2 separate regions of the Homo sapiens genome follow, and region 2 is linked to region 1. The links come from fine-mapping of genetic effects on gene expression. A gene starts in region 1. The other region holds a variant in brackets. All regions are shown on one strand. Distances are from middle to middle.

What was found. PIP is the estimated chance that this variant, and not a neighbour inherited with it, causes the effect.
Region 2: its variant is the best candidate, but not a certain one, in a credible set for the expression of KLHL28 in caudate (GTEx, PIP 0.70).

Annotation. Positions count from the first base shown.
Region 1 is chr14:44,959,383-44,964,769 of GRCh38, forward strand. KLHL28 (kelch like family member 28) reads right to left here and starts at 2,565. Exons shown (of 5, transcript NM_017658.5): 1 at 2,464-2,565. TOGARAM1 (TOG array regulator of axonemal microtubules 1) reads left to right here and starts at 2,808. Exons shown (of 20, transcript NM_001308120.2): 1 at 2,808-5,085. The coding sequence starts at 3,040. RefSeq lists enhancers at 1,632-1,721, 2,236-2,750, 2,292-3,101, 2,751-3,265.
Region 2 is chr14:45,805,977-45,811,363 of GRCh38, forward strand. No RefSeq gene overlaps it. Among named protein-coding and RNA genes, the nearest start is that of LINC02303, 93 kb to the left of the region's middle. RefSeq lists an enhancer at 5,100-5,387. The variant A/G (reference allele first, on the strand shown) is at 2,902.

The sequences.
Region 1 (5,387 bases):
ATTATTATGATTGTTTGTTAATATTAATAGCAACTTTCATTTGCATAGCATTTCTTCACAATAACTTCTCAAACTACACAAAATTCTTAATAGTTTACAGAATTCACACTGACGTTCAATATTCCTGGATGTCTGTAAAATTTGAGTAAGAACACAGAAAAATCATAGTGATTCGCCCAGGGAACTAATGTGTTATCTCTGATTCTGGAAATAAAGTAAGTTTTTAGGGCAATTGTGTTTACCCTTAAGTTCAGCTAAAAAAATTAACATATGTAGCACACACATTCCTATAATTCACTAATTTAACTACATTCTTGAAATTATTGAAATTTTAAACTTGTTTTAGCTGAATTTGCAATTTTCAATGTATCCTTAACCACTTCCTTTTAACTTTCTGAGGTGTACTATTAATAAAACACCTAATAGTGTATTCTACTATCTAAAAATTGATTACAAATTTGTACTCTCTCTATATATGATTAAATACAAAAGGCTTTTTAAGTCAATATACGAGAAATTCCTAGATTTCCAAAGATTAAAAAAAATCTGCTTCGTAATAAAAAGAATACACACTCAATGAATGAGATTTATGTTCCACAAAATAACTCTAAAAGATAATCAGTAAGACGTGATGCTGATGAAGTCCCATTTCCTAAATATCCACTATGGAGACTAATGCCTCTTCTAAGTCTTCAATCAAAGAGACAAAATGTAACAGATAAAAAATAAATTGCAATCTGTAATGTATAGTGATCCACAGGGATCTAAAAAAACAAGAATCAAAAGGAAGACTCATCTTGCTTTGTTCCCAGGAAAAGGGCATGATAACTGCTTAAGTATCCACGTCTCTCATTTAAGACTTTCGAAGTTCCTTTTCTGTGATTCCATGATTACCACACAACCTCTAGTTATTAACTTGGCTTCCCAAGTTCTTGGATACAAGAAAGAGTGCACTGGATTTTCAACTTGAAAATTCTGATCCAACATAAACTGGCACTGTAATGTGTACATCATTGTCTAGGTTAGTTTGAACTGGGTTCCTCAAGTCTGGGCAATACATGACTAGAAGTCTACACATTTGAGCTTCTTAGGTTGGAACTGTGAGAACCAGACACTTTCTCATTGACAACTGCTACAATCATTTCTTGTTTTTCACCTCCCTGTCTTTAACCTGTCCCTAAAATGAAACATGCTAGCTAAACCTAATTTAGGCAGATTCATTTAAACACGAAAATGGCTCATTAAAACCAAAGTAACAGCCTAGAATTTAAACCAAAACATAGGATGTATATTTACACAGCCTCATTTACATTATAGTCTATTCCCCACCCCCACCCCCCCAAAAACAAAACAAAACAAAACTGATATTCAAATCGTACTTTAAGGCAAAAATCCAGAAATTATTTTTGCACTTGCATCAGCTGGGAGCATTATTTATAAAGCTGTTTGGCATATGTGACTCATTTATTCCAAGACTTTAAAAAGTATTTAAGAGAAATCCCACCTGGTACAGAGCAGGGTAGGAATACTTGCATTTGAAGTGCATAAATTTGGGTCTTCAAATGATAACTTAGACTTTTCGCACGAGTCATTCAAAAGTAATAGTATTATTCCTTCAAAAAAAAAAAATATCTCTTCCACACTCCAAAGCATTCAGGCTCACACTAGACACTCCAGCTCTTCCACTGTGTCCGTTTAAGTATCACTTATGAGGAGAAAATGCACACAAAATTCTCAGTTCGCCTAAAATAAATAAATGTCTACTATCATTCCTAAATCCACAAGGCAGAATTCTCTTAGAACCATGATGCCAAGAACTTCCACCGCAAGTGAAATTGTCTTCGCAATCTCTGTCTCTAGGAGACTGAAAGGCTGCAGAGACGCTTGAGGATCCTGCAGGGAGGCTAGGGCGGCAGACGGAGGGGGCGGAGGTTAGGGGAGAGTCCCACAGAGGAACTGCATTAGAAGGAAAGATTTTGATAACGTCTAAGGGAGAGGCGGTTAGCTACAGGGGGAAAAAAACAGACCTATTTCCATATTATGTACGTTGTAAAGAAAACGCAAAGTGATGAGGGTAAGGAAACGTTGCCAAAAACAAACAAACAAAAACAAAAAAAAATTAACCCTCTGCGGCCGGAGGGTTAAGAGAAGTCGACAAAAGGAGAAGGGGGAGGCGAATAAAGGCCCCAAAGACCAGGAATTGAAAAAAAATACCCGATTTGTGAGCTTGGCCGTGGTCCAGATCTTCTGTCCTGATAAGCAGATGGCAAGAGGAAAGGATCGCAGTTACTCAGGGTGGTAGAGAGTAACGCGTTTACAAGGGTGACGAGCCCTGCACAAGAAGATGTCGCCTCTCTTTCCACCTGCTCCGCTCAGTCCTTTGCCTCTTACTCTAGCACCAGTGGCATTCGGGCAAAACACTGCCAAAGCCTGCACCGCTGGAGGACAGCAAAAGGAAAATACCTGAGTCTCAGTAATCACACGGGCAGCGACAGGAGGAGGAACCGCGGACAACTGGAGCCTGGGCTGGATCCTCACTAGCTCCGGTCAAACCCTAACTCTTACGGGTGGGGCGGGCAACTTCCGCCCAGAGCAAGGAAAGCGTCACATCCGTCAAATGGCTTCACCCCTCCTCCCTTCTCCGCTGTAGCTGCGTTTACAACGTTCTGACTTCCTCTTCCAGGAGACTTTGGCCTAGTCTCAACACCTGACGTGGACTACATAACCCAGCATTCATCACGGCAAGTGGATTTCCGGGTCAAGAGGTCCGCGCTGGGTACATCACCATGGAAGCAATCGGTTTGGTCACGTGGTGCCCTTGGTTACGCCCGGTGGCAGCTGTGGGGTCTAGGGCTCAGACGGGGGCCATTTTGCCAGAGGCTGCCTCCCGGAGTTGGGGGCGGCCTGGCGGCAGGCTGAAGCTGTTCTTTTGCCTCTTCTGCAGCTTGGGGCTTGGAGAGGATCTGGAAGTCTGGGCTCCATCGAGCCCTTTGGAGACGGCAATGGTTTCTTCCAACCACCACCACCTGACAACCCTGCATGGCGGCTGCCCCCTCCGCGCTGCTTCTGCTGCCGCCCTTTCCAGTCCTCTCTACCTATCGGCTCCAGAGCCGCAGTCGTCCTTCCGCCCCAGAGACCGATGATAGTCGAGTTGGGGGCATTATGAGAGGAGAGAAAAACTACTACTTCCGTGGAGCTGCGGGGGACCACGGTTCCTGCCCCACTACAACTTCGCCTCTGGCCTCGGCCCTCTTGATGCCCTCGGAGGCAGTCTCAAGCAGCTGGTCTGAGTCTGGAGGCGGTTTGTCAGGGGGAGATGAAGAGGACACTCGGCTCCTTCAACTCCTCCGCACTGCCCGGGATCCTTCTGAGGCCTTCCAGGCTTTGCAAGCTGCTTTGCCGCGGCGGGGCGGTCGACTTGGCTTCCCCCGACGCAAGGAAGCTTTGTATCGGGCACTGGGCCGAGTGCTTGTGGAAGGAGGTAGTGATGAGAAGCGGCTCTGCTTGCAACTTCTCTCGGACGTTCTCCGGGGTCAGGGGGAGGCAGGCCAGCTTGAAGAGGCCTTTAGCTTAGCACTTTTGCCTCAACTAGTTGTCTCGTTACGGGAAGAGAATCCAGCCCTGCGGAAAGATGCGCTGCAGATCCTTCATATATGTCTGAAACGTAGTCCTGGAGAGGTGCTGAGAACGCTTATACAACAAGGACTGGAAAGTACCGATGCCCGACTTAGAGCTTCCACAGCACTACTGCTTCCCATCTTGCTTACTACTGAGGACTTGTTGCTTGGTCTGGATCTCACCGAGGTGATAATATCCCTAGCCCGAAAGCTTGGTGATCAGGAGACAGAAGAAGAATCTGAGACAGCTTTCTCCGCACTTCAACAAATTGGGGAGCGACTTGGCCAAGACAGGTTTCAATCTTACATTTCTCGTCTGCCCTCTGCCCTGAGGAGACACTACAATCGCCGCCTGGAGTCCCAGTTTGGAAGTCAGGTTCCTTATTATTTGGAACTTGAAGCCTCTGGATTTCCTGAAGATCCCCTTCCCTGTGCAGTGACTCTTTCCAACAGCAATCTTAAATTTGGGATTATTCCTCAGGAGCTGCATTCACGATTATTGGATCAGGAAGACTATAAGAACCGGACCCAGGCCGTCGAAGAACTAAAGCAGGTGCTGGGAAAATTTAACCCTAGTTCTACTCCTCATTCTAGTCTTGTTGGCTTCATTAGTTTGCTATATAATTTGTTAGACGATTCTAACTTCAAAGTGGTGCATGGCACACTTGAAGTCCTGCATTTACTGGTTATTCGCCTTGGAGAGCAGGTACAGCAGTTCTTGGGACCAGTTATAGCAGCTTCTGTCAAAGTGCTGGCGGACAACAAGTTGGTGATCAAACAAGAATACATGAAAATCTTCCTCAAGCTAATGAAGGAAGTAGGACCTCAGCAGGTGCTTTGTTTACTCCTGGAACATCTCAAACATAAGCATTCCAGAGTGAGAGAGGAGGTGGTGAACATTTGCATCTGCTCCCTGCTGACCTATCCTAGTGAGGATTTTGACTTGCCCAAACTGTCCTTTGATCTTGCCCCAGCTCTTGTAGATAGCAAACGCAGGGTACGCCAAGCAGCTTTAGAAGCTTTTGCCGTATTGGCATCATCAATGGGCTCAGGTAAAACCAGCATCCTTTTTAAAGCTGTGGATACAGTTGAACTGCAAGATAATGGAGATGGAGTGATGAATGCTGTGCAGGCCAGATTGGCTAGGAAAACCTTACCAAGGCTCACAGAGCAGGGATTTGTGGAATATGCAGTACTGATGCCATCTTCTGCCGGGGGTAGGTCAAACCATTTGGCACATGGAGCAGATACGGACTGGCTTTTGGCTGGTAACAGAACTCAGAGTGCACACTGTCACTGTGGTGACCACGTGAGGGATAGCATGCACATTTATGGATCTTACAGCCCAACTATCTGTACCCGAAGGGTATTAAGTGCAGGAAAAGGAAAAAATAAATTACCATGGGAAAATGAGCAACCTGGAATCATGGGAGAAAACCAGACCTCCACTTCCAAGGATATAGAGCAGGTATGCTTCTCTAATTTTCTTGAGTCGAAAGTGTGAAGAATTTAAATGAAAATATGCCCGTGATGACTTAAGGGTCAGCCTGCTTGAGGGAAACATGTTATGCTTTGTTTTAAATTGATTTTAAATCCATCTGAATGTTGGTACTCATTATAATGGTACAGATCACAAAGGACCATTTAATAGGCTTCCTGCTTGATAGATTTAATTAAATTTGAGACACATGTGATATAGACAATACCAAGATTCAGTTTTAGTTACTGTAGCATGTCAGTTTATCTCATTCATACAACAAACATTGAATA
Region 2 (5,387 bases), 850 kb after region 1:
ACACTGAGTGCATTGAAGGAATTAAACTAAATATTTTGTGATCATATATTTTGATATCCTTGTGTTGAAAGCCTGGAGATTAGATTGTAAAAGGATTGAAGATCCAGGTCATGTTCTTTGTATGTGGTTTTAAAGTTTACCTTATTCTGGGTACGATGTCAATACTCAGGAAAAATAATGCGATGATTAACTAAGCAGCCTCTCTGTGTTTTTTTTTTTTCACTTTGGTTTTATGTAAGTTATTATGTTCTTAATGTATATTGATTTATAAATTTTATGATTATTTCAGTGGAATGTTTACCATTTTATTCACATTCTCCTAAGCTAGTGTTTCCAGTAGTTTCAGATCAGTTGACATGACATTTATCTCAATACAGGCCTGCCTCTTGGTTCAGATTTCTGTGTCTTTTTTGTCTCTGAAAAGGGTTCACAATGAGTAAAGATGTGTTAATGTGTATGATTCTACAGGGAGGGTAGGGGAAGGATACTAACTCCCCTATATTACATCTATTTACTTGACCGTTTATTTTTGTTTTAAGGGAAAGTAAACTTCATAAATTCTATTTTCCAGAATTGTTTAGGTTGATAACTAAACAATTGGTAGTACTCATGTCTTCATAAATTAAAAACACTACTCTCTTTTTCCTTTCATCATTTCATTGAAATGTGTGTTTTTTATTTTTCCCACATAAGTTAACTGAGATGGAATAGTTTCTTATTTGAGTGGCATGCTCTCAAAAAGAAAAAAAATGTTTTGGGTACACATACAATTCCAAAAAATACTACTATTATATAACTTTGCAAAAAATTAAAACACTTATTTTTTATATTGCAGTTTTGAAAACAAATACTATTTCACAGCATTAAACCTTTTATTTGTAGCATTGTGATGCTATGGAAAAAAACACAGAAACACAGACAGACTGGGGCTTGAATCTTGGCTCTTACATTTGTCCTTATTAAAGTTATTTTACTTTTTGACTCTTATTCATTATCTGTAAAATGTTAATAAGAATTCAATTCTTAATGGGATCATTGTAAAAGTAAGTAAAAAAAATTATGTGTTACACTTAACATAGTGACAAGCACATAGGCAATGAAAGTCATTTTTCTGAAGAATGAACTTTTCAAGAGCTCCTGTTACTTCATTATACTCACTACCAAAAGAGAGAGCTGGGCCTGAGGTTAGCATAGATTGTTTTCAGAGTAGCCTGTGTCTCAAGCCGGTGCTGAGATTACTATACAGGCATGGAACTAATCTGCCAATTTCAGCCTTACATTTTACTTGCATTTCAGGGTCTGTGGAAGGATGAACTGAGGTAATGCATATCTGCAGAGCACTTTTTATAGCCTCTGCGTTGCAGTATGTGGCCACTGCATGCTGAAAGATAGCCAGTGACATCAGGATCATTAATCATGCTTCAGGGATCAGAACCACTCACTTCCTATTCTGGTGCCTCGGTAGTGGCTCTGGACAATGACACGATGATTTGGAAATTCACTGTCTCTCTAATTCTAGGGTTTTGTTTGTAGAAAATTCTACATTGAATCAAGCTATAATAATAGTGAGGTACAGAGTAAAGCCTCCTTTGTATATTCTCTCTCAGTATTCAATCTAGTTGTTCACATGTTATAAAGGGTGACAAATTATTTGAAGAGAGATGAACTGAAAATGAAGGTGTCTTACATGGATGTCATCATCTATTTTTAGCACACTGATATGGTTTGGCTCTGTGTTCCCACCCAAATTTCATCTGGAATTGTAATCTCCATGTGTTGGGGGAGGGATCTGGTGGGAGGTGACTGGATCATGGGGACAATTTCCCCTATGCTGTTCTCATGATAGTAAGTGAGTTCTCATGAGATCTGATGGTTTAAAAGCGGCAGTTTGCCCCATGCTGTTTCCAATACACACAGTGTTTGCAACTAGGAAAATATTTCAATAATATATGAAAGGTTCAAGATATCCTGTGCTTGATAGTAATTGATAAACTATGTGATAACACAAAAATAAGAAGTACATATTTCAAGTTGTGACAACAATTAGAAATATGTCTTCTACATAGCATTATAAATAAAAATAAATCACCTTGCCAAGTTTCATGACCCCATGACTTATTTGTAATACATACTTGAACATGCACATGTCTGATGTATTCCTAGATGTCTGTACATGTATTATAAAGGGCAATGTTTTCCTTGAACAACTGCTGTTTTTAGTGAGATTGTTAGTAGATATTAGTAAATTACACTTGTAGAAAGAACTCTATAGTCAGGAATGTCACATGTGACTGATGAATGTAATAAAAGTAACAGAATTATTATAATGATCACATTTGGTACTAGAAAGAACAGAAAATTTTGTATAGATACAAAATACATAGTCATTGAATGAATAGTTTCTTGGTGGATCAAAGCTTATATATCTTATGGATAATTCCTTAGGTGTGACATGCATCTATTTCATAAGTTGTATAACTTAGTTATATTGTTTTGCATTAATTAGCCTAAGATGTGACATAGATAATAGAAAGGAAATTAAGAAACAAAATTTCCTTTTTTTAATCCAGAAACAATCAGGAACTGTTAAATGGACTAGACTTCTCTTTGATGCCACATAACCAAGCTCTACAGTTCTCTTATTTGACATATTTTAATCCAGGCTTTTTAATCCACTTATCCTCAGTAACAGCCCTCTTCCTTAGACAGTATCTCCAGTCTTTTCTTGCTTTACCTATCCCTACCTTGGACATCTTGATTTTCAGGCCTGTGAACTTAGCCCTGTGTGAAAAGGGTAAAAGGGTCTGAGAACTCCTTAGCATATATTTTTATTACACTTGCATCAATTTATTGTATTACTCTTTGGTTTGGCAATACTCTTGGAATTCATTGAGTAACTCA[A/G]TGGATATTTGCTGAATTAATTAATGGACAGTGGTTACCTAGGTGAAGAAAGAGAGTCAGGGAAAGGACAAAGGTGTTTCTGTGGCTGAAAAGCAGGAAAAATAACATAGAACAAACCATAACAGCATATTTTTCTGGTGTTCTGAATGAGAATTGGCTGTGGAACAGAGCGGAAGGGATACTACATGGGAAGAACCGAGCCTGGGGATCAGGCCTGGATCACTAAGAGCTGATCAAGATATTTCATCTGTTGTTCTTTCATTTTCATTTCAGAGTGGGAAGTTTGTACTAGGTTGCCTCTAAAGGGCTCTTCCTCATCTGAGCTTTTATAATTCTCCAGATGATTGAATTGATGTTGTTCCTATCCAATTATTGATGACACTATTTTGGTTAAGTTCCTAATACCTTGGGGAAAATGTGTAAAATTCCATGTGTCATGTCATAAATTGAAGAGATATTTAGTCAATTTGATATTAACCTTTAGGGAGCAGTATAATTTCATATAACAGATATTTTTAATTTATCCTGATATAAAATGTCCAAAGAAACTATCCCAAACTAGGTAGAACAAGTAAGTCACTTTACCAGAATCATAAATTCAAAATCAATAAGTGATTAACAGTGTTTACTTTTAAAAGCTATTAGAAGTAGTTGATATTAGAGAGCTAGAAACAAGTATTATAGGATATTTATTTGTATTCAAACTTTTATTAGGAAATTGCTCTAATATTGGTCTTTGTGTTTTAGTATATTTCTAGAGAAGTGAGAGAATCAAGAGGAAATATAGTAATGGACATTTTGACAATGAATTATAAGAGAGTCAATATACTGAGGGTTTAAAAAATTAAGATGAAGATTCATAACTGTTTTCAAGCTATTGAAAGGGAATTGTGAAAAAGATTGTGTCCAATTATCATCTATCTCCACTGGGATTGAAAGACAAGTAGTGGGCTTAATATGAAGCAAGAGAAGAATTCATTTAGAAAGGGAGATTTTTATTTTTGCCCAAATTATGATTAAACATTGTAACAGCTGACTGAGAACTGTTAGGAGCCCTTTGTTTAAAAAAAGTGAAACAGATGAATTTCAGTCTTTGTTCATCTAAGTATGTATTTTCACTTTATGATTATTTGATGATCCTATAAGGACTAACATTTCTCCAGAGTTAAAACCATTAATGGGAGATATATTTGTTGGAAGATTCTCTATTCCCAAAACATTATTTTTCTTTTTTCCTTCAAGATAAAACCCAGCACATATTGTCTGCTTTGATATCTAAACAACTTTACAAGCATTCATGCTTTGAAACAGTATGAGAGGCCAAGCAAAGGACATTTAATGTTTTTTACTTTCCTCTTCCTCTCTGGTCACAGGATAAATGTAAAACTGGTTTGAGTAGCTGCTGTAAAGTCGTGTGGGTAGCTGAATTTCCTGTCAGCACACTTTACAGCCTGCAGATGCCTCTGAGGAGAGACAGGCTTGACTTGTACCACTTTTCAGGTTTGTTTCTTAAACTCGCTTCTGTGAGCTTTTCCAGTGACTCCAGGGAGATGAAGCACCTCCCTACTGCTATATATTAGAGCAAAATTTAGCAGACACTTAAAAGCATTTCACAGTCTCAGAAGAGAAACAAAATAAATTCAAATATTTGGATTTTTGCCAAGGCCTTCAGAGTAAACTCAAAAAGTCTTTCCTTTCCCAGTGGGCACATTCTGAAATTTCTCTTTAGGTTATGCATATTGAATAGAGAGAACCATGGCTCACATCTTTCTAAGTTGAGACAGGAAATTACTGCCCCCTTAGGGTGCTTCCCTGGCATTAACACAGCCCAAGGTTGGAACTGGTTAATAGTTGCATGGTGTGTGTGTGTGTGCATGCACACACGCATATGTGCTCTATCCTTGTAGTAGTCAGAGAGCAGATAGTAACTAAGAAAGAAAGGCAAGAAGATAATAATGAAATATTTGGGAATTAAATGAAAGTCATGGAAAATCTTGGAACCATCATGATTATGAAAGAAAATTCTTGAGATAATTCTATGTCTGCAGTTTGCTTTCCACCTTACAAGTCCCTGGGCAAGTTACTTAATCTCTCCAGTCTCCATTACTTCTATAAACAAGGAATAATAAAAACAACTATCTCACAGAATTGTTATGAGAATTAAATCAGACGATGAATGAAGAATGACAATTACATAATAAGCATTCAATATGTTATTTGTGACTGCTAATGTTGGAAGAAAAAACGTCAAAGAATACCATGATAGACAAAAATCTGTGGCTAAATTACCTGCTTTCACAAGAAATTTGGAACCTCTTAGCCTTCTGTTGATCCTGGGAAACGGCTACTCCCTGGTAGGCTGAATATTACTTTTTGCGGTTACACACTTTGTCTGCTCCCAGAGGGCTCTTGTTCTAGACTTTCTGCTTTAAAGTGCAGCTGGTGCTCCTGTTGGCAGTCTCTTGGGGATGCAAGGGTTTGGCCCA